2 separate regions of the Homo sapiens genome follow, and region 2 is linked to region 1. Evidence: fine-mapped expression QTL. A gene starts in region 1. The other region holds a variant in brackets. All regions are shown on one strand. Distances are from middle to middle.

Region 1 (2,918 bases):
GTCACCTTAAACTACCCTATCCAGAGTAGCCACCCCCATCCCCAAGTCACTATCACCCATCCAGCTATATTTTCTCTATAGCTCTACAGTATGTAAAAATCATCTATTTAATTATTTAATTTACATCTATCTAACTGGTCTGTCCTCTCACATTTAGAATATAAACTGTATCAGAGCAGAAACCTTCACCCTCTTAATTTAACCGCCATATTCCCGGTACCTACAACAGCGTCTGGCACATAGAAGGCATTTTTAAACATCCTTGCTGAGTGAACCAATATCCCAGAAACCTCTCACAGCTAGTTCATCTTACAGGAGAAACAGTATTAAAGAGTTAATTAAATGGCCAGGCGCGGTGGCTCACGCCTGTAATCCCAGCACATTGGGAGGCCGAGGCGGGCGGATCACTCGAGGTCAGGAGATCGACACCAGCCTGGCCAACATGGTGAAACCCCCTCTCTACTGAAAATACAAACATCAGCCAGGCGTGATGGTGGAAGCCTGTAATCCCAGCTACTCAGGAGGCTGAGGTGGGACAATCGCTTGAACCCGGGAGGCGGAGGTTGTAGTGAGCCAAGATCGCACCACTGCACAACAGCCTAGAAGACAGAGTGAGACCCTGTCTCAGAAAAAAATAAAAATAAAAATAAATAAATCTATAAGTAAATGACTCGCCAGTCAAAATAAACGGCAACTTTAGGGTTAAAGGCCCAATCTGGCTCCAAAGCTTGGGGTTTTAGTTACTACACTACATTGCTTCACTATATTTTACAATTTACTAGCTGCTTATAAGTATGAATTAAGGCTCAGAAGTCTAATTTTCCAGACTACTCGGAGGACTCTCGCCCCACTCCACTCCACAAAGATTCAGCTCAGCGACTCCTTCCTACTCTGACCTAGCCCCGCGTCCCGCTCTCAGTGGCTTGGGCAAGAGCGCCTGCGCGGTGAGCGGGTCCCATAAAACGCATTCTGGGATTGGTAGTCCATGTTCCTCCGGTCTCCAGCATTCAAAAGAAAAAGGGGGAAAAAAAACCATGCAAATTAGATATCTCTGAATTTCTTGCAAATTAAATAAGACGCAGATTCTGGCTCAGGAAAGTGATGCAAACGCGTCGTTTTCAAAGGAGAGACCCCAGCCTCGGGTCAGGCGCGGCGCAGACAGCGGCGCGGGGTCCTTGGCTGGGCGGGGCTTGCTCGCGGTGGCTTGTGGCTCCTTCCTGCGGTGCTTCTCTCTTTCGCTCAGGCCCGTGGCGCCGACAGGATGGGTGAGCTGTTGTGGCCGGTTTAAGGGCGCTGCAAGCGGGACTTGGGGTCTTGGGGACGGGCGGGCGGATGCGAATAGAGTAGGGCGGGGGATGCCATGGAGAGGCTCCATGGGGGAGGGCCGGGGAAGCGCCGCTCCAGGAGGCACGTGGTCCGGCGCGGAAGGGGCCCATGAGGCGTGGAGGCCGCCGAGGTCGGGGTACCGAGGGACGCAGGGAGGCCAGCGCTTCCTCCCGGGCATTCGAGCGGGGCCTCGTCCTTCGGGAGAACACATTCTCCGGAGCCCTCTTCGAACGTTTATTAGTCGGTTCAGGGCAACTTGAAGGCCAAATGTTTGGCCCACAGGCCAATAAATAGTACGAGAGCCAATCGGCTTAAGGGTTTATTCCAGGTGAGGCGAGTGTCTTAGAAGATGGGAAACACGTAGATGGCGTGTTTTTACGGAAGAACTAAAATATTTAATTTTTAGGCAAGTGTCGTGGACTTCGTACTGCTAGGAAGCTCCGTAGTCACCGACGAGACCAGAAGTGGCATGATAAACAGTATAAGAAAGCTCATTTGGGCACAGCCCTAAAGGCCAACCCTTTTGGAGGTGCTTCTCATGCAAAAGGAATCGTGCTGGAAAAAGTGTAAGTCCATTGCTCCCGTCAAGTTTTAGTTTATTATAGGAATTCGAGACATGAACTTACGAATTCTTGTTTTGAAAGTAATTGCAGGTTTTTGTGTAGTAGTATTCATTTGGGCATTGTGGGGTAAAATTGCAAAGCGTTTGTTCTATTTAAAAGTTGGTAAAATTAGTTTTTGGGAATTAGGTAGTTAAGGTTTTAATTTAACGTTGGCCTGGAAGGAATTGGAGAAGATACTAGCAATGATGAAGTAAAGGACACAAACACCTTTACTGTGGGAGTTGTTATAAGTAAATGGCACGTGTCAGCTATTGAACTTTATCGACTTGATAAAACTAAGGTGAAGAGAAGTGACTTGCATCAGAATTAATTGAGGTCATACACCTAAGATTGAGACATGAAACTGCCAGTATTTGACTGGTTTTGACTTTTTAAAATAATAATTTCATATAGTTCTATCATATTTGATGGTAGAGCCATTTTAACCCAGACTTTTTTTTTTTTTTTTTTTTTTTTTGAGACAGTCTAGCTCTGTCACCCAGGCTGGTGTGCAGTAGCGCAAGACTCCCTGCAACCTTAGCCTCCCAGGTTCAAGCATTTCTCCTGCCTCAGCCTCCCAGGTAGCTGGGATTACAGGCGCCCACTACCACACCAGCTAATATTTTGTATTTTCAGTAGTGATGGGGTTTCACCATGTTGACCAGGCTAGTCTCAAACTCCTGACCTCAGGTGATAATGCCTGCTTCGGCCTCCGAAAGTGCTGGAATTACAGGCGTGAGCCACTGTGTCCGGCCCAGACTTTCTAATTCTTACCTCAGATACCTTTTTTCTTTTTTCTTTTTTTTTTTTTGAGATAGGGTCCCTTGTCACACAGGCTGGCCATCTTGACGTTCTAGGCATAGATCCTCCCACGTCAGCCTCGCAAGTAGTTGGGACTACAGGCCCACGCTGCCACTCCAGTCTACTTTTATAACTGTAAAAGGTCTAGAAATTTCCCCCATTGTGCTAATGAAATTAAGACTGGCAGAA
Region 2 (2,918 bases), 260 kb after region 1:
AAAAGGGAAGCAGGAGTGCCAGAGTGAGGCTGTCAGATAGGCAAGCCAGTGGCTAGCAGATGGTTTGAAATGTTGCACAGGGCAGGCAGGGAGGCCTCATTAAGGAGGTGGCATGTGAGCAACCACACAAAGGACCTGGATGACTTAGCTATATCTGGAAGAAGAGTGTTCTAGACAGAGGGGCCAGTCAGTTCAGAGGCCCCAGGGTGGCAGTGTTTGTCTGGAGTGTTTAAAGAACAGCAAGGTCAGCGTGCCTGGACAGTTGTGATGAAAGAAAGAAAAATAGGAGGTGAAATCAGGGGAGTAAGAAAGTGGAGAAGGAAGCAAACTGCACAGTTTATGGTGTATTGTAAATATTTTGGCTTTTAATCTGAGTTGAGAAGTGACACAATCTGACTTGTATTTTAAGAGTTATGTCATAGGAAGGCAAGAGTGAAAACAGTCAGATCATTAGGAAGGTAATCCTAGTAAGAGTTGACGATAGTTTATACCAGGGTGGTAGCAGGGAAGATGATGACAGATGGTATGATTCTGGATATTATGAAAAGGGAACAAGCAGGATTTCCTAATGGATTAGATGTGGGGTGTAAAAAAAATAAAGGAGTTAAAGATAGTTCCAGTAGCTTGAGCAACTGGAAGGATGGAGTTGTCATCAATTCAAAGAGGGCTGGTTTGGGTGGTAGTAGGTGAACAAGTTTGGGAGCGGGGAGACTAGGAGTTTAATTCTGGACATGTTAGCTTCGGGATCTAAGTGAATCCATCAAAGTAGAAGTGTCAAGAAGTTGGCCTTAAGGGAGAGACATCTGGGCAGAGGATATACATTTAGGAGTAATTAGCATTTGGATGGAATTTAAATGATGAGACCTCCATGGTCATGAGACTAGCTAGAGATGAGAATAAGACATAGGACTGCTCATGGGCACTAATATTATGAGACTGTGGGGAAAAAATAAAGAAACAGCAAAGGAGACTGAAAAGGAATAAAGAGTAATATAGAAGGTGAACTAAGAGAGTAAGGACACCAATTGAAGAAAGTATATCAAGGAGGAAAGAATGATCAATCCTGTCAAGTGATGCTAGAAGATCAAATAATTTACCTGTGAGTTTAGCAGCCTAGATATCACTGGTAACATTAATAATAATATTGGACCCAATGGATCATTCCATAAGAAAAGAAATTTTACTACTTAAATTCTTCTAAAACAAATAGTTTTTGTTAAGCATTTGACAGAATCCAGCATCCCTTTATGATTAAAACCCTCAGCAAAACCAGCATAGAAGGGACATATCTTAAGGTAAAAAAGCCATCTATGACAAACCCACAGCCAACATTATACTGAATAAGGAAAAGTTGAAAGCATTCCCCCTGAGAATTGGAACAAGACAAGGATGCCCACTTTCATCACTTCTATTTAACATAGTACTGAAAGTCCTAGTCAGAGCAATCAGACAAGAGAAAGAAATAAAGGGCATCCAAATCAGTAAAGAGGACATCAAACTGTCACTGTTTGCTAAGGACATTATCGTATACCCTAAAGACTCATCCAAAAAGCTCCTAGAACTGGTAAATGAATTCAGCAAAGTTTCAGGATACAAAATCAACATACGCAAATCAACAGCCCTGCTATACACCAACAGCAGCCAAGCTGAGAATCAAATCAAGAACTCAACCCCTTTTACAATAGCCGCAAAAAAAAAAAAA[G/AG]AGATAAAATACTTAGGAATATGCTTAACCAAGGAGGTGAAAGATCTCTACAAGGAAAACTATAAAACACTGCTGAGATAAATCATAGACAACACAAACAAGTAGAAACACATCCCACGCTCTTGGAGGGGTTGAATTGATATTATAAAAATGACCAAACTGCTGGGGCTGGGCGCAGTGGCTCACGCCTGTAATCCAGGCACTGTGGGAGGCTAAGGTGCGCGGATCACGAGGTCAGGAGCTCGAGACCATCCTGGCTAACACGGTGAAACCCTGTCTCTACTAAAAAAATACAAAAAATTAGCCAGGCGTGGTGGCAGGCGCCTACAGTCCCAGCTACTTGGGAGGCTGAGGCAGGAGAATGGTGTGAACCTGGGAGGCAGAGCTTGCGGTGAGCTGAGATCATGCCACTGCACTCCAGCCTGGGCAACAGAGCAAGACTCCATCTCAAAAAAAAAAAAAGAAAGAAAGAAAATGACCACACTGCCAAAAGCAATCTACAAATTCAGTGCAATTCCCATCAAAATACCACCATCATTCTTTACAGAACTGGAAAATAACAATCCTAAAATTCATATGGAACCAAAAAAGAGCCTACATAGCTAAAGCAAGACTAAACAGAAAGAACAAATCTGGAGGCATTACATTTCTTGACTTCAAACTATACTATAAAGCCATAGTCACCAAAACAGCATGGAACTCGTAAAAAATAAGCCTATAGACCAACAGAACAGCACAGAGAACCCAGAAATAAAGCCAAATACTTAGAGTCAACTGATCTCCAACAAAGCAAACAAAATAAAGTGGGGAAAGGACACCCTATTCAACAAATGGTGCTGGGATAATCGGCAAGCCACATGTAAAAGAATCAAAGTGGATCCTCGCCTCTCTCTCACCTTATACAAAAATCAACTAAAGATGGATCAAAGACTTAAATTCAAGACCTGAAACCATAAAAAATTCCAGAACATTGGAAAAACCCTTCTAGACAATGCCTTAGACAAAGATTTAATGACCAAGAACCCAAAAGAAAATGCATCAAAAACAAAGATAAATAGACGAGACAATTTAAAAAGCTTATGCACAGCAAAAGAAATAATCAGCAGAGTAAACAGACAACCCACAGACTGGGAGAAAATCTTCACAATCTATCCAAAACCCCATCTGTACGTCACCATCATCAAAGACCAAAGGTAGATAAAACCATGAAGATGGG

What was found.
Region 2: its variant is fine-mapped to the expression of RPS23 in monocytes (CEDAR, PIP 0.95). The same link has a PIP of 0.9 or more in B cells.

The regions. Positions count from the first base shown.
Region 1 is chr5:82,276,667-82,279,584 of GRCh38, reverse strand. RPS23 (ribosomal protein S23) reads left to right here and starts at 1,231. Exons shown (of 4, transcript NM_001025.5): 1 at 1,231-1,265; 2 at 1,733-1,892. The coding sequence starts at 1,262. It also overlaps the pseudogene ATP6AP1L. RefSeq lists an enhancer at 911-1,240.
Region 2 is chr5:82,015,940-82,018,857 of GRCh38, reverse strand. All of the region lies in intron 2 of ATG10 (autophagy related 10), which reads right to left. Among named protein-coding and RNA genes, the nearest start is that of ATG10, 45 kb to the right of the region's middle. The variant G/AG (reference allele first, on the strand shown) is at 1,703.